Linked DNA regions of Homo sapiens: region 2 is linked to region 1. The links come from fine-mapping of genetic effects on gene expression. Tissue or cell type: lung. Region 1 holds a variant in brackets; the other region holds the start of a gene. All regions are shown on one strand. Distances are from middle to middle.

Region 1 (10,770 bases):
AAAACGTCTAAGAGGAGGGGGTGATTCAGACTGCCAACTGCCAGACCTTTGGGAGAGTGACTTGGCCAGAAGGTATCTGTCCCAGCATGGGTTCTCCAGGAAGCCAATGTTAAGACACTGTTAGGAATACAAAAGTGTTACCTGTGGGGTGGGAGAGAGGAAATGAAATTGGGAAAAGGAACTGTCAAACCATCATATGGATTTGGCAAAACCAGGAGCTCTGAAGCAAAGATTGCCCCTTATGGGACTCCCACATTGAGGAAAAGTGATCCTACCACCCCGCTCTGTCACTGGGACCCTGAAAGTAGCTGGAGGCTATCAGCTTAACACAGTCCTTGTAGCTGGGTAGCAGTTACCTACTTGAGGGGGCATCTGAGTGGTGCATCTCTGTGTCTACCTCAGAATCCATTTAGAAAAGCAATTTCAAGAGATTGATAGGGATAGAAGTCATATTTTAGGGACCATGCGGGGTCAGGTTGGTGAGAAGGTGGGGCAGCCGAGGGAAACCTCACATTTGTGATTTTTTTTCATTCTTTTATTTTTAATTTTATTTTATATATTTTTGATTTCTGTATATTTTAATGACTTCAGATTTGTGATCTTTCTTAAATTAAAAAATTTTTCTTTTTGAGACAGGGTCTTACACTGTCACCCAGGCTGGAGTGCAGTGGTGCTGTTATGGCTCACTGCAACCTTGAACTCCTAGGCTCAAGTGGTCCTCCCACCTCAGCCTGCTGAGCAGTTGGGATTGCAGGTGTGCGCCACCATGCCTTGCTAATTTTTATATTTTTCATAGAGACAGGGTCTTGTTATGTTGCCCGGGCTGGTCCCAAACTCCTGACCTCAAGTGATCCTCCTGCCTCAGCCTCCCAGTGTTGAGATTATGGGCATGAGCCACTGCGTCCAGCCAGATTTGTGGTCTTTGTCACCACTTTGAATGCACACTGTGACTTCACATTTTCTCTTGGAGATGAGTGTACTAAATTAAACTTCTAAGGAGGTGATAGTCAAGGAGCTCAGAGCCCCCTCTTCTGTTATAGAGCCTTCTCTCACACCTGCTTGTTAATTCTTATTGTGTCCTTTTCTCAGAAGTCTGTACTTGAATTTTAAGAAACTGGACTTCTCTACTAGATCTCAGGCCAGACGAGTTGTGCTTGGCTAGTTCTGGTGGTGTTAAGAACTAATGGAGGCATTGTTTTTCACTCTGAAAGTGATCTGAACTAGAGATTCCAATTAAAAATTCTTCTAGAAACATGGTAGTATAGTAAAATAAATGCAAAGACCCAGATCTAGATGAAGATGGTAAAGTAGCAAAATGAAATTTAAAAAAAGAAAAAAATTCTTGGAAATTCTTAAATGGGACTAATTTAGCAAACATTTGTTGAACAGCTCTCTCATTAGGTACTTCATTAGGTTTTGGTATTCACAGATGGCTAAAATACGTATTGCACAGATGGCTAAAATACAGACTCTCTCTTTAAGGAACTTACAGAGTAGTGAGAAAGATAAAGAAGCTTGCTGGAGTTAAATCTCCTCACAAATCATTTACCTTCTTAAAAGACATTTGTGCAATATTTCACTGGGGGGCTGGACTCTCAGGAGGCTGTCCCAAATTGGGGGACTTTGTTGTCCATTAGGGTGACTTTCTTTTTTTTTTTTTTTGAGATGGAGTCTCGCTCTGTGCCGAGGCTGGAGTGCAGTAGCACCATCTCGGCCTGCCACAACCTCCATAGGGTGGCTTTTTAAAGAGGTATGGGAAAGCATGCTTTGTGGGTGGCTCAGAGGAGTTAATTTTATCAACTTTATAGTTCTACAATGATCTTTTCATTTTCTAATTTTACTGGTGCTTTCTAGCAGGAGCCTTGTTTCACCTAGTCCTGATACTGCAGCAAAATACCACAGACTAGGTAATTTATAAATAATATAAATTTATTTATCACAGTTCTGGATACTGGAAAGTCCAAGATCAAGATGCTAGCAGATTGAGTGTCTGGTGATGGCTTGCTGTCTGCTCCCAAGATGGTTCCTTGTTGCTGTATCCTCACATGGCAGAAGGGCAAAAGAGACTAGGGAACTCTCTCCCTTCAACCTCTTTTATAAGGTCATTGATCCCATTTGCGAGAGTTCCGCTCTCTTGACTTAATCACCACCTAAAGGCCTCACCTCTTTTTTTTTTGAGACGGAGTCTTGTCTTGCTCTGTCACCCAGGCTGGAGTACAGTGGTGTGATTTCTGCTCACTGCAATCTCTGACTCCCTGGTTCAAGCAATTCTCCTGCCTCAGCTTCCCGAGTAGCTGGGACTACAGGCACACACCACCACGCCCGGCTAATTTTTGTATTTTTAGTAGAGATGGGGTTTCACCATGTTGGCCAGGATGGCCTCGATCTCCTGATCTCGTGATCTACCTTCCTTGGCCTCCTCCCAAAGTGCTGGGATTACAGGCGTGAGCCATTGCTCCCGGCGAGGCCTCACCTCTTAATACTGACACATTGGAGATTAAGTTTCAACATATGAATTTTGGGGGACACATTCAGACCATAGCAAGCCCTCCACCCTACTTAATTTTTTAATTTTCTATTTAAAATATATAAAATATTAAAAGATAAAAGCTTCATTTTCTGATTGAAAGGTAATACATAGAATACTCAAACAATGTATTAAAGTACAGAGTCCAAAGTAAAACATTCAAATTCTACCACCAAAGGCAGGTTGTAATTAACTTTTCAGTGAATATCTTTCTTATATATCTCTCTTTCTCCCTTCCCCCATCATGTACACACATGCATATACACATATGTAAATACACAGACATATATGTCCTTTTGTATAAATAGGGTCATATTCTGTATCCTTTCGTATCCTCTTTTATTTTCTTATTTATTTATTTATTTATTTATTTATTTTTGTGAGACAGGTTCTCGCTCAGTTGCCAGAGCTGGAGTACAGCGGCACCATCACGACTCACTGCAGCCTCAACCTCCTGGGCTCATTTGATTCTCCTACCTTAGCCTCCCTAGTAGCTGGGACCACAGGCTCACAGCTAATTTTTGTATTTTTTGTAGAGATAGGGTCTTACTTTGTTGCCCAGGCTGGTCTTGAACTCCTGGGCTCAAGTGATCCTCCTCCCTTGGCCTCCCTCAGTGCTGGGATTACAGGTGAGAGCCACTGTGCCTGGCCTGTAGTCTCTTCTTAAGCATTGTGTTAGGGTCATCTTTCTGTATAAATGCATATAGATACAGACACCATCCTTTATAATGACTGTGAACTCTTTCATTGTGTTGATGCATCATGCTTTATTTAACCATTTCCTATTCACAGGTATTTGAGATGTTTTAAATGTTTTTAACCCAGGATACTGCTATACATTGTACAATGCGTAGGTTACCTGCCCTGTCCCCCAAACAAATAATTATTCAGCCAAAAATGTCAGTAGTACTGAAGTTGAGAAAAACCTGCTCTGTACCTTCTGCAGTGTTGGATATTGGTAGTCTTTACTCCCTTATATCTCCTCAAACACCAGGTATTACTTAGGCAAAAAGTAGTAGCTCTTTTAATGTGCATTCTTTTGATTACTAGCAAGATTAAGCATCTTTTCCTATATTTTATTTGCCTATTTTTGAAGTAAAAGGTGAGGTTTAATCTTTAGTTACATGATACTGCAAGCTACGCAATTCCGTGTAGAAATAAGGAACCCATTCAGAGGACAAGGTTCATACAGTATGTACAATTTGGAACTGCTCAAATATAGTTTCCTTGTAAAAAAGTATCACAATAACCATATTTAAAGGCATTCTTAGTAGAGAAACAGTAAGAAAAGTTATACCAAATATAATACACAACAAACAACATTATGCCTTAGCCATACAATCCAAAAGTTAAAGGTCCCAGGAGTTCCACCTGAACTTGAAAGGTATCCTCTATTTATTAGTGATTAGTTTCTTTTGTGAATTTTCTATTCGTGTCCACAAGAATGATTTGAATATTGGAGCTATTTGCCTTTTTTGTTTTTTTATGGTTTCTTTCTTTTTAAAAGAAAATATAAGCATTTTTCTGTGGTCAAATTTACCAGTATTTTCTGTTTAGTTTCTGAAGAGGGGTAAGTTGGTAAGTTATCCAAAATAACTTTAAAAAGGTGGTTCAGTTAGAGTGTAATCCAGTGCCATCCATGCTGTATGACATCAGTGGCATATATTCTGTGGACAGCATTCCAACAGATGACTTTGAGTTACTTTTCCTTAATCTGTCTGTAAGTGTTCTGCTCTTACTGAATCTTCGCTTAGCCCTATGCTAGTCACTGAAGGATGCAGAAGGAAAATATTTATTTCCTCCCTTCAATAAGGGAGGATATTTGATAAGTTAGATATTTGAGATACCATTAGTATCTGAAACAGAACATAGTTAAATGCTGAATAGGAGTTCATGGGGCAGGGTGGTAATCCATAAAGATTTCCTAGAGTTTATGAATGACCCAATCTTGAAGGATGTGACTAGGCAGAAGAGAAATGTTTCCAGCACAGGGCATCACTGTGGGACAGAGAGCTAAGAGATTTGAGTTCTAGTCCCTACTTTGTTGCTAATTATTGTGTGACTTAGGCCAAGTCTCAGGCCACAGTCTTTTTATCTGTGAAGTGAGGAGATAGAAATAGTATATTTTCTAAGATTATTGTTAATATTAAAGTATCACGGCTTTAGTGTTAAGAGAATTTTTAGAAAGAATTCACTTAGCAGTTATTGAAAGTCTTCTGGATTCTGGGCAGCATGCCAGGTGCCATGGGCATGCAATGTTGTATAAGATATGGGCCTTTCAGAAATGTACAGTCTTACAGGAGAGAGAAATCATGTGTGGTAGTTAGCACAAGAGGTACTGCTTGGGAAACAGAGTGAAGAAAGATCATCTTGGTTTGGGTGGTGAAGGCTTCAGAAAGAGATGCCATTTTTGTTAGGCAGGAAAGGAGGTAGGGGTAAATTGAGCAAGGGCCCAGGGGAGAAAGGGATGTGGTACAAGTTGCCTGGGATGCAGTTAGTAAGCTTATTTGGCTGGATTTATATGGTTGGTGCAGAGGGTGGGAAGAAATAAGGAAGGTGAAGTGGGCTGGCCTGTGGAGTGACTTAAATATACAACTCACATATTTCCTTAGCTTTTACTTCTGTAGTCTTCTGATGATTTTTAGGCAGGGGGATAACGTGATGTTAGTGGTACTTGAAGATTTGGTGTAAGTGTCTAGGATGGTAACTGATTGTACTTAGGGATTGAGAGCAATGTGAACAATGACTTTGAGATTTTTGAGGCTGGTTAGATTAAAGGTAAGAGGAAACAAGCAAGACTTAAGCAGTGACAAGCAGGATGAAAAGATGTTTGGAAGGGGAAAATGAGTCCATGCGGGAATGGGCAGGACTTAGAGTAGACAATGCTTTTAAGGCAGGGCATAGCTGTGGTAGGAAATTGGTCATGCTGGTCCATTGTTAGGAAGAATTTTC[T/TGG]GGTAATTTGCCATTGGCTTGAAATTTTATAAATCAGACAGGAATTTTAATGTTTTAAAAAAAGATTGCCCATTATGAGTTATAAGTCTATAATTGTGTCAGTTCAGATAAGTCTTTTGGAATAGAAATCTGCCCCCACTCCGCTTTTTTTTCAGTGTTGAATCTTGCCCATTACGCACATCCTGTAAAGGGAAACAGTGTGTTACTGGGTGGCACGTTTTAAATAACTTTTTAGAATCTCTACGTCTTTGGAGAAAGGAGGGTGAACACTACTTACTCGTGTTAAAACACTGTTCACCATCCTTGATTTCATTTTCATGATGGCTGGAGTAAAATGCTCAAAAGGGGTAAATGGCAAGCAAACCACTGAACAGGAACAGACCACACGAGCAGGGCTCATGCAGTTAATTAGTCATCTTGTCAGCAGAGGCCCTGCAGAGGCAACTGCAGACAGCTATGAGGGAACTGGAGAGATGAGTTTCTGGCATGGATATGGATCTGTTATTGTGGTAACAATAGTTTATTCTTCAGATCAGCAGAATGAGAGCAAAGCTGCTTAGCAATTATGTGGGTGCTGAAAGAATGGCCTTTGGAGGAACAGGCATTTGAAGCGGGATAAATTCAGCTTTTTCAAGAAACTTGCAAACACCCTGATTAGAATGATTTGGGGCAGTCCTTTTACAAATCAAGAACTTGTAGTCCTCTTTCTGATTCTTTTGTCTTAATCTGCTTTTCAGCTTCCTCATCTGGAGAAGGGGTTAGTGCCTCTTAGTGCAGATTCCCCCAGAGGGATAGGGTGCTGGGAGATGAGGGCTCCCAGAGAGAGAACGGTCCCAGACTTCTAGGTATGTGGACTTCCTTGCCACTGGCACTAACTTGGCTCTGCTGAATAGTGCCTGTCATCTCTGTTGGGCCCTGTGGAGCTGATGGGGTGGGGCTGGGGTAGCACCAGCACATCACTAAAATTTAGAAACAACTCACGGGCGTGTCCATCTTTGTATTGGCAGGGCTATCTGTTTTTCCAGAAACAGAGGGAAGGTAGCAAAGCATGGAAAGGACACCAGAGTGGGAGGCTTGGGTCTAATCCCAGTTTTGCTACACGTAAAACTCTGTGATTTGGGACACATCTCCTAATCTCTGACTCAGCCTCTTCGTCTGTAAAATAGCAATAATATCTATTCTCCCTGTGGAGAGGCTAAAACAAATTAATAGATGGTATGAGTCTACTTGAAAAAGCATAAATTGCTGTATAAGTTTATGGAGGAGCTTTTACTTCTTTTTACTAGTTTATATTCCGGCCATCAAAAATTTTATTTCTTGTATATTTTATTTTTATAAAAAGAAAACCTTGGTAAGGTGTAGTCGTTCACGCCTCTAATCCCAGCACGCAGGCCAAGGTGGGTGGATCACTTGAGGTCAGGAGTTTGAGACCAGTCTGGCCAACATGGTGAAACTCTGTCTCTACTAAAAATATAAAAATTAGCTGGGTGTGGTGGCAGGTGCCTGTAATTCCGCTACTTGGGAGGCTGAGGTGGAAAGATTGCTTGAACTTAGGAGGCAGACGTTGCTGAGATCATGCCATTGCACTCCAGCCTGGGTGACAGAGTGAGACTCTGCCTCAAAACAAAAAACAAACAAACAAAAAACCTTGTTGAGACTGGGCATGGTGGCTCATGTGTATAATCCTGGCACTTTGGGAGGCTGAGGTGGGAGGATCACTTGAGCCCAGGAGTTTGAGACCCGCCTGGGCACACATAGTGAGACCCCATCTCTATTTTTAAAAAATACAAATAAATCTTAAAAAAGAAAAAAATACTTGAGATACTGTCTAAGCTTTAAAGAAAGGTTGCTGATAAAAAGTTTTAAAGATAGTACACAATTTTTTCCTCTTTTAGAAATACTGTTTCATTGTTGCTTTATTCAGTTGGTTGTTTTATATATACATATATATTATAATTAATTAATTAATTTTTGAGATGGGACCCCCTCTGTCACCAAGGTTGGAGTGCAGTGGCATGATCATGGCTCAATGCAGCCTCGACCTCCCTAGGCTTAGGTGATCCTCCCACCTCAGCCTCCCATCTCAGCCTCCCAGGTAGCTGGGACTACAGGCATGTGCCACCACATCCAGCTAGCTTTTGTACTTTCTATAGAGATGGGGTTTTGCCATGTTGTCCAGGTTGGTATTGAACTTCTGGGCTCTAGCTATCCTCTTGTTTCAGCCCCCCAGAGTGCTAGGATTATTGGCATAAGCCACCATGCCCAGCCTGTTGTTATATTTTTTGAAGAAGACTTCCCTTTTATAGACCTTACTAACAGTGAAAAAGCTGTCACAAAGCTGGACTTCTTATCTAAATTATGAAATGAGTTTGGGTTGATAGTTAAGGGTTTTACAAACAAGTCCAACTCTCATTTGACAGTGAGGATGCAGAGACATTGGAGCGCAGGTCTCTTCCAGGTGCCTTGTATACTGTGCTGCCTTCCTCACAGTTTGCCTAAGTAAAGATGGTTAAGAAAATTATCACTGAATTTAGCCATCCCTGTGTTTAACAAGAGTGCTGTTTAATTGTCGAAGGCTGAAATCTTGAGTTCAAATCTATATCTTCTGCAGTGGGATCACTTAATCAAACTAAGCATCTATATGTACAAAGAGCATTGTTGACTTTAGACAACTGAAGACATAATGTTTCTTATTACTGGAGAGTGCTGGACCAGAGATTACAAAACCCGAGTTCTAGTCTCAGTTCTTCTCAGTAACTTTAGTCAAGAAAAACAAATTTAATATCTGTGAGTCTGTAGTCACCATTTATAAGATGAGGATGACAATATGACATCCAAGGCCCCTGCCAGGGCTTTAGTTAGAGGATCTGTGAAACCCTAAGGTAGAGAACAGGGTGGGTATGGGAGAGATGGTGTTTTTTGTTTCCTGAAGGCTTTGGATTAATCAGCTACTTTTATCATGTTATTCCCCTATCTGGAAATTTTTGTATTTGCCTCTATTCCTATCCTAAAGCTATCCTTACCTATCCTGTAAGCCATAAGTTACATTTTACTTCCTCTGTGAAGTCACTGTAACACATACTATTTCTCCTTTTCTGAACTCATTTATTGCCCTTACAGCTCACTCATCCATTAGTCATGGTACATTGCTGTGGAATATGTCTTCCTTTTACACCTCATTTCTAGTCAGCAGGTTAATGTAGAAGAAAAAGTATAGGCTATGAAGATAAATAGATTGATCTATGTGATCTTAGGCTGGCCACTTAAAATATATATATATATATATATATTTAATTTTAAAAATATGTACTACATTTTTGAGTAGGTTAATTTTTTTTAAAAAAACTTAATACAAAGAAGAGCTACAGTGAAGTCTTTTTCTAACCTTGGTCTCATCAAACTTGTCTTCCTTTCACAGTTACTAGTTTCTTATATATCCCTCCAGAATTTCTTTTCTTCCTCCCTTTTCTTTTTTATACAAAAGATGGCATACATATTCTTAGGTACCTTGTTTTTTTCACTTAATTTATGTTGGAGATCTTTTCATATCCGTACATAGCAAGCTTTCTCATGGTTTTTATGTTTTATGGATATACCTTAATTTAACCAGTAGTTGGGAATTGTTAACTTGGGTAAAGTTCCAAATGATTTTAAAATTTGAATGACATTTGAACCTGATCTGAGAAGTGTGCATTTCTTTAATACTTGTATTTCCATAGCATTTTACAGTTATTAAGCTCTTTATATTCTTGAAATTGATCTTTAGTATATAGGATTTACTAGGCTAATATAAATTAAATATCTTTTTAAAATTTTGCTGATTGTGGTGCAGGATTCTCCAATAAAAGCTCCACCGTACTCTTTTCATGTGCTTTACTGGCAAACACAGGGTTTGCTTGAGAAACACAGCCTGCTTTGTAGTCTTCATTACTGCATTTATAACCATTTGTGAATTTACTTCCTTAACTTACTTCCTTAAAACCAGTAGAGCATGTAGAAAAGGATCTCCACATAAATGAAGCTTTGAGAAACAAAACAAATTTAGAAAGAAGATATGCAAATTATTTTATAGATTAAAAATGTTTAATCTTAAAAAAACTCCTAACTGAAATATGTGTATGCAGAAAAAGGGACTCGCTTAATGCAAATGAAAGTATTTATTGAGATGAATGTGGCTCCTTAAGGTTAAATGTTTAGGGCTGAGAAAAATAAGGAACGTTTTTACCTGGGGTTCAACTAGGAAGATTCTCTGTTGAAGAAAATACAGCCTTAGCTATGTAATTTGACCTGTTCAGAAAGCACAAATGAAATGGAAGGGATTTAAGTTCTATCTTGAAATTTTCATTTAATGTAAAACAAGATTAATACTAAGGTAGCCCACACTGCTCATTTAACTACTGTACCTGGACTTTGAAGTGTGAACTTAGGTTATTGCAAGACCAGTAGCCCTTTATATGTATTTATGCTATGGAATGCAGGTTTTCTGTAAAATATTTTTAACCATGTTGGCGACTCCTATTTTTGCTATTTAATTTTTTCCTGAATCTAATCCAGGCCCTTGATTTCTTTCTCTTTTTATATTTATATTCTTTTATACTCATGCTGAAATTTAGCCTAGTCATAGAATTTTAGAAATGTTTAGATACTTAGAGATTCCTAATTAATATTTGGTATATTAATTTGGCCCTTTCTATTGAATAAATGAGAAAACTAAAGCCTGGAGAGGTTGTGACTTGCCCAGGTCAGCCTCCTTGTCCAGAACCCCTGGCTGCAGCCTCCCAATAATACCAGGTTCTTTCTCTGAACAGCTCTAATTGGCTGACTCTGCTCTACTTGGTGAAAAGTTTAATTTTGAACACATTCTCTTAGACTTCCCCCCCCACCCCACTTTTCTTTCTGATGTGGACAAATTAGTAAAAGACCACAGGAGTATTATATTCACAGATCTTGCATGGAGCCTGGCTCATAGTAGGCATGTAATAGAGACTAGTTCTAAGTGAACCAAACCTGGGAAGGAATGAGAAAGAATAACAGGTTACAAGTAGGGGCTTGCAGCTGAGCAGTCCTCACCCTGTTTTTGCTAGTTTATTTTCCATCTTTCTCTACCCAGGAGAGGGAGCAGCATGTTGTACTCATGGTGAAGGTGTCATGTGCTGGTTAGTGGGAGTCTTTAAACGATTTTCTTTTCCCTTGCAGGTCCTTTCCCATAACCTGTGCACGGTGCTGAAGGTTCCTCATGACCCAGTTGCCCTTGAAGAGCACTTCAGGGATGATGATGAGGGTCCAGTGTC
Region 2 (10,770 bases), 24 kb before region 1:
CCACCACTATGGAATACAGGCTTTATTCTGAGAATTGGATACAATACAGTTGCAGGAGAAGCTAGGGAAGAAAAGGTCTGAAAGGAGATGGCTGGACAATCAGAAAAGTCACTAACCAGAGATCACAAAGGAAAGCTGACGAATGAGTACATGGAAGGCTGTTCCCTCTGCATCCAGCAATGGGCCTGAAGTTTATGATAGGTCATCAGGGCTAGCAATCAGGAAGAAAAGTTGGATTGCATTGAGGGAGAGTGAGGACAAACTAGAATCCACAGGACAAACTGGAACCCACGAAGACAAAATGGAACTCACAGCTATCTTTCACATTGACGAGCATGCGATATGTAGCATAAGCTAATGCCTTTACCATGGAACTACACGTGCCTTGCGCCAAGGCTTGGAGACACTGAAATAGAAAATTTGGTGGGAGTTGAAGGAGCTGTGGGCCAGTTAATGCTCTGTACCAACAAAGTATGTTAGCAGATCAGTAACCACTCTATGATCTGCAGCGGCATGTGATATTTACATCAACCTTCAGAACACAAGGGCTGCTGCTTCCAAATCTTACATAAATCTTACCTGCTCCTTCCAAACTTACACGAAATTCTTCTGTAGTGAATCCTATCCTGGATCCACATTGGGAACGGACATTTGAGGAACTAGATTTCAACTTACCTAATTGACACAGTACAAACATCAGTGACTGTCAGATACCATGATGCTGATGCTGTGTCTTATACATACTACCCTCTCATTTAAACTTCATACCAGTCTTGCAAAATAGATCTCATCTGGAAAGACCTCATCAAAAAAATAAAAATTAAAAAAAGAGGCCGGGTGCGGTGGCTGACGCCTGTAATCCCAGCACTTTGAGAGGCCGAGGCAGGGTGGATCACGAGGTCAGGAGTTCAAGACCAGCCTGGCCAAGATGCTGAAACCCCATCTCTACTAAATATACAAAAATTAGCTGGGCATGGTGGCACGCGCTTGTAATCCCAGCTATTTCAGAGGCTGAGGCAGGAGAATTGCTTAAACCCAGGTGCCAGAGATTGCAGTGAGCCAAGATCAAGCCACTGCGCTCCAGCCTGGGTGACAGCAAGACTTCGTCTCAAAAAAAAAAAAAAAAAGTTTCCTTTCGGCCGGAACCGCCATCTTCCAGTAATTCGCCAAAATGACGAACACAAAGGGAAAGAGGAGAGGCACCCGATATATGTTCTCTAGGCCTTTTAGAAAACATGGAGTTGTTCCTTTGGCCACATATATGCGAATCTATAAGAAAGCTGATATTGTAGACATCAAGGGAATGGGTACTGCTCAAAAAGGAATGCCCCACAAGTGTTACCATGGCAAAACTGGAAGAGTCTACAATGTTACCCAGCATGCTGTTGGCATTGTTGTAAACAAACAAGTTAAGGGCAAGATTCTTGCCAAGAGAATTAAGGTGCGTATTGAGCACATTAAGCACTCTAAGAGCCGAGATAGCTTCCTGAAACACGTGAAGGAAAATGATCAGAAAAAGAAAGACGCCAAAGAGAAAGGTACCTGGGTTCAACTAAAGCGCCAGCCTGCTCCACCCAGAGAAGCACACTTTGTGAGAACCAACGGGAAGCAGCCTGAGCTGCTGGAACCTATTTCCTATGAATTCATGGCATAATAGGTGTTAAAAAAAAAAATAAAGGACCTCTGGGCTGTAAAAAAAAAAAAAAAAATTAAAAAAAGAAAAAAGAAGTGTTGCAAAATAAATATTAGCATTCTCATTTTACATATGAGGAAATGAAGCCTTATATTTACTCATAGATGAGTCAATGGGGAAGCCCGGATTCTTCCCGACATCTGTGTGGTAGCCATCTTCCAAGATGACCCCCATGATTCTTGCCCATTGGTACTCATATCCTTTTGTAGTTTCCCTCCCAAATCAAATAGATTTGACCTGAGCAATCAGTAGAGCATTGCAGAAATGATGGTGAATGACTTTTGATGGTGGATCGTAAGAGACATTGCAACTTCCATCTTTCTCTTTCTTGAATCAATTGAAAGCCAGCTGACGTGTTGTAAGGATACTCAAGCAGCCTGAGGACAGGCCCATATACAGAGGAACTGAGGCCTTCTGTAAACGACCCATCCATGTGAGTGAACCACCTTGGAAATAGATTTTCCAGCATCAGCCTAGCCTTCAAATGACTACAGCCCTATATTTTACTGCAACCTCCTGAGACACTTCAAGCCAGAACTATAGAGCTAAGTGGCTTCTAAATTCCTGACTTACAGAAAATATGAAATAATGTTTACTATAGTTTTAAGCTGCTAAATTTTGGGTTAATTGGTTACACAGCATTAGATTAATATAATCTGTTAGATTCTGAAGCACAACTCTTTACTTTTCTTTCTTTCTTATTTTCAATTTTTTTGTGGAGACGGGGTTTTGCTACATTGCCCAGGCTGGTCTTGAACTCCTGGCCTCAAGCAATCCTCCCACCCCAGTCTCTCAAAGTGTTGGGATTACAGGCAGGAGCCACTGCACCCAGGAAAAGCACAGCGCTTTCTATGACATCATGCTACTTTAAAATTTGTTTGGATAGGAAGGGCATGGTGGCTCACGCCTGTAATCCCAGCACTTTGGGAGGCCAAGGAGGGCAGCTCACTTGAGGCTGGGAGTTTGAGACCAACCTGGCCAACATGGCGAAACCCCATCTCTACTAAAAATAAAAAAATTAGCCGGGCGTGGTGGCTGGCGCCTGTAATCCCAGCTACTTGGGAGGTTGAGGCAGGAGAATCGCTTGAACCCGGGAGGCGGAGGTTGCAGTGAGCTGAGATCATACCGTTGCACTCCAGCCTGGGCAACAGAGTGAGACTCTGTCTCAAAAAAAAAAGAAAAGAAAAAAAAAGAAAAAAAATGCGTTTGGATTGTATGAATGAGGATGATGGGAGAAGTAGGAATTTGGAAGTCCACAATGTCCTGGTCTTGTCATAAAAAAAAGGCTTTGAAATATGTTTGGTACTTCCAGATACTGAGAGAGAAGAAGGGTCATATAGTGGTTAAACTGAACCTTGAGAATTAGGAGGTTTTCTTCGTTTCTTTTTTCTTCTTCTTCTTTTTTTTTTTTTTTTGCTACTCAGGGTAAGCTGACTTCGCATGAATAAATCAGAGGTTAAACCATGTGGTTTTGCTGACTGGCAGACTTGGGCTGGAAATGGGGAAGATAAATGATAGAAATTGGATTCTGGTAGGGCAAGAAAAGTCCTGACAAATGGTGATGAAATGGGGTAGAACCTTCAGGACAGTCACAGTGAGGGGCTGGCCACCCTTTTGCTCCTGCCCCTTCTTTCGTCAGTGGGGCCATCCTCTCCTCTTCCCCACCAGTTCCTTTTTGATCTCAAACTCACTGAAGAGGCTCCTTCTTGTTCTTCTCTTTCCAAATATCCCTTTCTTATGAAGATCTTTTCCTTTCTTAATAAGGCAAACATGTGCATTAAGGAACTTAAAAAAGCAAAACAAAACCAAACTTCATCTGAGAACCACCTCATTTTAAAAACTCTTGGTGTTTATTGTTCTCTCCAATTAGTCCAGGATTGGAGAGGAGAGGTACTGAGCCTGGCGATTTAATCAGACCTTAGTTAACCGGCAATAGTTATTATCCTAGGATGCTAGTACTGCAAGAACCCTTCCAGAACATCTGGTGCAACCCTGCTCTTTTTATACGGGATAATTTGAAGCCCAAAGAGATCAAGTGACCATTGTGACCACCGCGAACAGATATTAATTCAACAGCTGCAATCGAATACTTTTTTTTTTTTTTTTGAGACGGAGTTTCACTCTTGTTGCCCAGGCTGGAGTGCAATGGCGCGATCTTGGTTCACTGCAACCTCCGCCTACCGGGTTCAAGCGATTCTCCTGCCTCAGCCTCCCGAGTAGCTGAGATTACAGGCATGTGCCACCACGCCCGGCTAATTTTGTATTTTTAGTAGAGACGGGGTTTCTTCATGTTGGTCAGGCTGGTCTCGAACCCCCGACCTCAGGTGATCCGCCCGCCTTGGCCTCCCAAAGGGCTGGGATTACAGGCGTGAGCCACCACGCCTGGCCGAATACGTTCTTTTAAATGGTCCATCTCTTTGGATTAGTAAAATGGGTGGAGTGATTTGGAATTGGCCCAGATCTCCTATTCTGCAAGCAGAGAAACACTACAGAGAGGTATTACCCAGGTCAAACCCCTCCTAAGATGTGAATTGAACAACAGCTAGGCGTTAGGAAGAAAATGCTGCCTGACCCTGACTTCTAAACTCCCCTTAAACGTCGTCGCTGTGTCCCTAGAACCCAAGATAGAGTATGCATGAATAAACTTTTGCGAAATGAACCAACAAACTTCCCTCGAGGTCCTTCCTGCCTCCCCGCCGCCCTGCATCTCCCCGACTTGGGACTGCGCTATCATTTCAGTCCTGGTCTGGGGACTTTTCGGGGTCTTCTCTGGCCTTCTCAGACAGTGACTCCGTTCCCAGGACAGGACCAGGGATCCCTTTTTCACTGCGGGGCGCTGGGAGGAGGCGGGTAGGCTGCTCACCTAATCTCTCGGGTTTTTCCTCAAGACGCGGTCATTTGTGTGAGGTGTTGTACTCGAGCACCCAAAATGGCCCGAACTGGTCTGGGAAACATTAGGGAGATGTGTTTACCGTCCTGGCTGACACTGAAGGCCAAGCATTCTTGCCACCAGGCGTGGCTTGACTCGCAGAACCCACACTCTGGCGGCTGTGGGCGCGGCACTGGACCGGCGCCGGCAGCAGGGCGGGGCCTGGCGGGGGCGGGGCCTGGCGGGTCAGGTGACTGCGCGGCGGGCTGTGGCTGCGGAGGTTGAGGGGCGTCCGAGGCGCGGAGGGGCTGGCTGGGCAGGAGGGGTTGGCGGGGCAGCAGGGCCGCGGCCATGGGGAGCTTGAAGGAGGAGCTGCTCAAAGCCATCTGGCACGCCTTCACCGCACTCGACCAGGACCACAGCGGCAAGGTCTCCAAGTCCCAGCTCAAGGTGGGCGCCTCCTGACCCGGCCCCCCACCCGACCCTCCCCGGCGCGCTCTGTACTTCCCTTGGGTGGAAGCGGGACCTGGCGGGCCGTGACCGCAGGGCGGGGCGGGTCGGAATGCGCCCGGTAGGCCCGCTTGGGGCGGAGTGGGTCTGAGACCGGGATTTGGTGTTTACTGCCTCCCCCTTGCCTTCGGGCCATGCCCTCGGTTGGATGTGTTAGTTCCCGCGGGTCTCCCAGGGACTGGGAAGGGTGGCGGGCATAAGGCTGGGGTGAAGTCTGGAGGGCCAAGTGTGATTCCTTCTTGGCGTTGGAGAGCGGGGGGCAGAAAGTGGATTCTGAGGCGGCAATGGGAAGCTCCCTTACACAGCCTTCCCAGAATTTTCCTCTTACTCCAGGAGAGGAAGGGACTTGCCCAAGGTCGCTGGGCAGAACCTTCTGCAGCCCACAGCCCCACACCAGGACAGTCCTCAAAACGGCTAGCTGCCCCGGAGGCGACAGGGCAGTCCGGAGACGCAGAAATGCCCCGAAGCCCGGCCTCCAGGGTCCTTCTCCTTTGGGAGGCTTTTTGACTTGGGAAGACCTTCCGCCCAGCGTCTTTTAAGTTTGGAACTAGTGGACGGGGTGTACTGTGTCCCACAGGGACCTTAGTTCCGGGTGAGGAGCGCTGATCTTTCTGGCACCCTGCAAAAGCGACTGCTTTTTCAGAGTCGTTATTGTGACTGCCGGAGACCCTAGAGTATAGGGTATAAATAAAGGGATGCTTGTAAATTGAGTAACCCCAAGCAGCGAAATTGGCATTAAGCCAGCAGAAATTGGCAGCTTCTTCAAAGTAAAAAAATATAGAAACAGACAAGAAAAGCTATTCATAGGCATTTAAAAATATACATATTTTAGATCCGAATGTCCGGTTTTCTTAGCCCCTTCTGGGAATAAATTCTGAAGATTGGGTTTGTTTTGTATATTTTTGTACAGTAATCCCGTTCTTCTGAGTAGTGGCTTTTATGCCAGTAGGACTTAACATTCTCCTTGTCTTCCTTTTGCCTCTCCTTTCTTTTTCTCACTGATAGAATCATAGTCTGGAAGGGTCCATGGAGATCATCCACGTAATTTTTATTTTACTTCATTTTTAAATATTAACATACAGTAAAATTGACTTTTGGTGTACAGTTCTATAAATTTCAACATATGTATAGATTTATATAACTATCACCACAACCATGGCTTCCTCAGTTCCATCATCCTAAAAAACTCCCTGATGTTGCCCTGCCTCCACCCCAACTGTCGGCAACCATTGATCTTTCCTAATTGCTATAGTTTTACCTTTTCCGAAGTGCCATGTAAATGGAGTCATATAGTTTGTAACTGTTGAAACTGATTTCTTTTACCCAGCATAATGCCTTAGAGATTAATCCATTTTGTTGTGTGTACCAATAATTTTTTAAATTGCTAAGTAATATTCTATTGCATGGATGTATGGTAGTTTTTAGCCATGCATCTGTGAGAATTTGTGTTATTTCCAGTTCGGGGGAGTTATGAGTAGGTCTACATTTTACTTTTATTTTTACTTTTAACTTACCTATGCCATTTTATTTAAAGTAAGTTTTTAATAAATAGATGTAGCTGGGTCTTTTTTTTTATTCATTCTGACAATCTCTGTCTTTTAATTGGTATATTTAGGCCATTTACATTTAATGTAATTATTGATATGGTTTGATTTAGGGCTACCATTTTATTATAATTTGGTTTCTGCTTTTTTTTTTTCCTCTCTTTTTCTTCCATCTTTGGGATTATTTGAATATGCTTTAGTTTTTTGTTTTTTTTTTTTCTGAGACACAGTCTTGCCCTGTTGCCCAGGCTGGAGTGCGGTGGTGTGATCTCGGCTCACTGCAACGTCTGTCTCCTAGGTTCTAGAGATTCTCGTGCCTCAGCCTCCCAAGTAGCTGGGATTGCAGGTGTGCGTCACCACACCTAGCTAATTTTTGTATTTTTAGTAGAAACGGGGTTTCACCATGTTGGCCAGGCTGGTCTTGAACTCCTGAGCTCAGGTGATCTGCCCTCCTTGGTTTCATGAAGTGCTAGGATTACAAGTGTGACCCACTGTGCCTGGCCAATATTTCATTTTAATAGAGTTTTTTACTATATTTCTTCATGTAGGTTTTTTTAGTACTTGCTCTAGGAGTTAGAATATCCATCCCTAACTTTTCATAGTGTACTTAGAGTTAATATTTTACCACTTTAAGGAGAATGTAGAAAACTTATCACCATATAGGTCCCTTTACTCTCACTGCTTTATGTTGTAATTGTCATATTTATTAATCTACATACATTGAAATCCCCATCAGACAATATTAAATTTTTTGCTTTCAACCATCATTTCTCTTTTAAAGATCTTAAGAGGAGAAGAAAATTTTATTCTTTTTTTCCAGATATTCCCAGATGACCTCTTAATTTTTTTTTTTTTTTTTTGAGCCGGAGTTGCGCTCTGTCACCCAGGCTAGAGTGCAGTGGTGTGATCTCGGCTCACTGCAACCTCTGCCTCCCGGGTTCAAGCGATTCTCCTGCCTCAGCCTTCTGAGTAGCTGGGACTACAGACACGTGCCACCAAGCCTGGCTAATTTTTGTATTTTTAGTAGAGATGGGGTTTCACCATATTGGCCAGGGTGGTCTCAAACTCCTGACCTCGTGATCTGCCCGCCTTGGCCCTGCAAAGTGCTGGGACTACAGGTGCCCGCTGCCATGCCTGACTAATTTTTTTGTGTGTATGTTTTAGTAGAGACGGGGTTTCATTGTATTGCCCAGGCTGGTCTCGAACTCCTGAGCTCAGGCAATTTAACCAACTTGGCCTCCAGAAGTGCTAGGATTACAGGTGTGAGCAACTGCAATGATATGTTTAGTGATTTGTCCAAAGTCACAGTTGTAAGTAGTAGCTAATCTAGAACCAAGATTTTCACACTTCTGTGTGTGTGTGTGTGTGAGAGAGAGAGAGAGAGAGAGAGACAGGGTCTTGCTGTGTCACCCAGGCTGGAGTGCAGTTGCACTATCTTGGCTCACTGCAACCTCCACTTCCTGGCTCAAGCGATCCTCCAGCCTCCACCTCCCAAGTAGCTAGGCTCACAGGCATGAGCCACCATGCTCAGTTCATTTTTGTATTTTTTTGTAGACATAGGGTTTTGTCATGTTGTCCAGGCTGGTGTTGAACTCCTGAGCTCAAAGACATCCGCCCGCCTTGGCCTTCTAAAGTGCTGGTATTCAGATATGAGCCACCTTGTCCAGACAACTCTTTATAATTCTTTTTCTCTTTTTTTGGAGACAAGGTCTTTTTGTCGCCCAGGCTGGAATGCGGTGGCGCGATCATGGCTCAATGCAGCCTCAACCTCCTGGGCTCAAGCAGTCCTCCCACTTCAGACTCCCACGTAGATGGGACTACAGGCACAGGCCACTATGCCCAGCTAATGTTTGTACTTATGTAGAGATGGAGTTTTGCCATTTGCCCAGGCTGGTCTTGAATTCCTGAGCTCAGACTATATGCCTGCCTCAGCCTCTCAAAATGCTGGGATTACAGGCACGAGCCACTGCACCCATCCTATTTTCACACTTTATTACTATTACTGTTGTATTTTTTATTTTTTTGAGACGGAGTGTCGCTTTATCACCCAGGCTGGAGTGCAGTGGTGCGATCTTGGCTCACTGCAACCTCTGCTTCCTGGGTTCAAGCGATTCTCCTGCCTCAGCCTCCCAAATAGCTGGGATTACAGGTGCCCACTACCACACCTGGCTAATTTTTGTATTTTTAGTAGAGATGGGGTTTCACCATGTTGGCTGGGCTCATCTCAAACTCCTGACCTCAGGTGATCCACCCGCCTTGGCCTCCCAAAGCATTGGGATTATAGGCGTGAGCCACCATGCCTGGCCTATTTTCACACTTTAAAGCCAATGGTTTCTTCATTTTCTTCTCTTCCAATTGACGGCATAAATGAGATTTTTTGGATTACTTTGATGATACTTTATTCAAAATTGTCTTTATGGCTGCTTATAGGAAAAGCGTCTTGGCAGGAAATGTTAAATCCCAGTTCATAGATTTCACCCACAGTATGTTGATAATGCAACTGTGCAATTGTATTTTGTCTCTCTCTTGTCTGTATGAGACTTTGGGATTGGTTCAGTTCTGTTCATCTTGCCAGTGTTCGTAGAATTGAAAATATTTAAACATTTTTATTTAGGTCTCCTTTTGTGTTTGACCCTAGTTCTGTGTTCTGTTGGCTGGGAGTAGAGTTTTTGCCTTAATTTGTTGATTGATTCATTCACTCATACAGTAACCTTCTGTAAGTCTACTATGTGTAAGGTACCATGCTAATTTAGTCAGAAGATTAGTATTTTTAGGCTCTTAAGAGTTAATATCTCCTTGGAGGAAATGTCAAATAATTGATTTGTTAAACAGCAGACTAATAATTATGTATCCAAAATGATGGTTAAAATGTATTGCTTTGGAAAGCTATATGGGTATTCTAAAATATTTTTGATACTTGCCTTTTTGAGTTATCTTCACAACTTTTGACACAGAGAATGGATATATTCACTAGATAAGGGATATGGTGGTGAAAGGCAGAGAAAAAAGAAACAAATATGAATCTTTGCCTTCAAAGAGTTTAAACTTTGGTAGGCAAATTAAAAGGCTAAATGACCATTAAAGAAGGCACACTCTCTCTCTCCAGATAGAGATTATATTACTCAGACAATTACTGATCCTTAAAAAACATAAAGTCTGGTGGTGAAGGTAACAAACAGAAATATTGGGTTAAAGATACTGAGTGTGACAGAAGATATGGAGCCATGAGATTTTAAAGGAAGAAGCGATTTCTTCTCACTGGTGTGATTGCTTTATGAAAAAAGCTTCTTTGAAATGAACTCCGAAGGAAGTTAGGATGTGATTATGTAGGAATGGGGGAAGATTAAGCCCATTCTATTAATTAATTAATTACTTAGTTTTTTGAGACGGAGTCTTGCTCTGTTGCCCAGGGTTGAGTACAGTGGCAACCTCCACCTCCCTGGTTCAAGAGATTCTTCTGCTTCAGCTTCCCAAGTAGCTGGGACTACAGATGTGCACCACCATGTCTCGCTAATTTTTGTATTTTTAGTGGAGACAGGGTTTCACCATGTTGGCCAGGCTGGTCTCAAACTCCTGACCTCAAGTGATCCACCTGCCTCGGTCACCCAAAGTGCTGGGATTATGGGCATGAGCGACCACGCCCAGCCTAATTTATTTATTTAATGGATAGTTATTGATTGCTGTTATCCCTAGGGAACACTGATCTACTGCAAGAGATGGGAATGAATCAGGTATTTATGGGGACTTCTGTGTAACTTACTTTGATTGGAGTGTAGAACATACACATATGTGTTCCTGTGTGTGTATGAGAGAGAGTTATTGCTGGTGATAAAGCTACAGAAATAGATTGGGGTTAATGCATAGAAAGCTTTGATTGCCACACAAATTAGGTGTATGCCAGGGGCCCCCCAGGTTTTCAGAGAATGATGAGTTGTGATCAGAATTGCACTTTAGAAAGTTACTTGCCAGGTGCGGTGCCTCACACCTGTAATCCCAGCACTTTGGGAGGCTGAAGTGAGTGGATCATCTGAGGTCAGGAGTTCAAGACTAGTGTGGCCAACGTGGCAAAACCCTGTCTCTACTAAAAATATAAAAATTAGCTGGGTGTGGTGGCACGCACCTGTAGTCCCAGCTACTTGGGAGCTGAGGCAGGA

Which allele goes with the higher level. Positions count from the first base shown, and alleles are read on the strand shown. Sizes are in standard deviations (SD) of each study's normalised expression.
In carriers of allele T in region 1, the expression in lung of the gene that starts at base 4,811 in region 2 tends to be higher than with TGG alone (small effect, 0.24 SD a copy in GTEx).

Evidence for each region. PIP is the estimated chance that this variant, and not a neighbour inherited with it, causes the effect.
Region 2: it holds the start of SWAP70, and the variant in region 1 is fine-mapped to the expression of SWAP70 in lung (TOPMed, PIP above 0.99). The same link has a PIP of 0.9 or more in atrial appendage, breast, left ventricle, subcutaneous fat, thyroid and visceral fat.

The regions. Positions count from the first base shown.
Region 1 is chr11:9,683,471-9,694,240 of GRCh38, forward strand. It overlaps SWAP70 (switching B cell complex subunit SWAP70), which reads left to right. Exons shown (of 12, transcript NM_015055.4): 2 at 10,676-10,770. Among named protein-coding and RNA genes, the nearest start is that of SWAP70, 25 kb to the left of the region's middle. The variant T/TGG (reference allele first, on the strand shown) is at 5,480.
Region 2 is chr11:9,659,267-9,670,036 of GRCh38, forward strand. It overlaps SWAP70 (switching B cell complex subunit SWAP70), which reads left to right and starts at 4,811. Exons shown (of 12, transcript NM_015055.4): 1 at 4,811-5,012. The coding sequence starts at 4,914. LOC124902628 (a long non-coding RNA gene) reads right to left here and starts at 848. Exons shown (of 2, transcript XR_007062586.1): 1 at 117-848. It also overlaps the pseudogene RPL21P97. RefSeq lists enhancers at 3,989-4,188, 5,299-5,418 and a silencer at 4,659-5,158.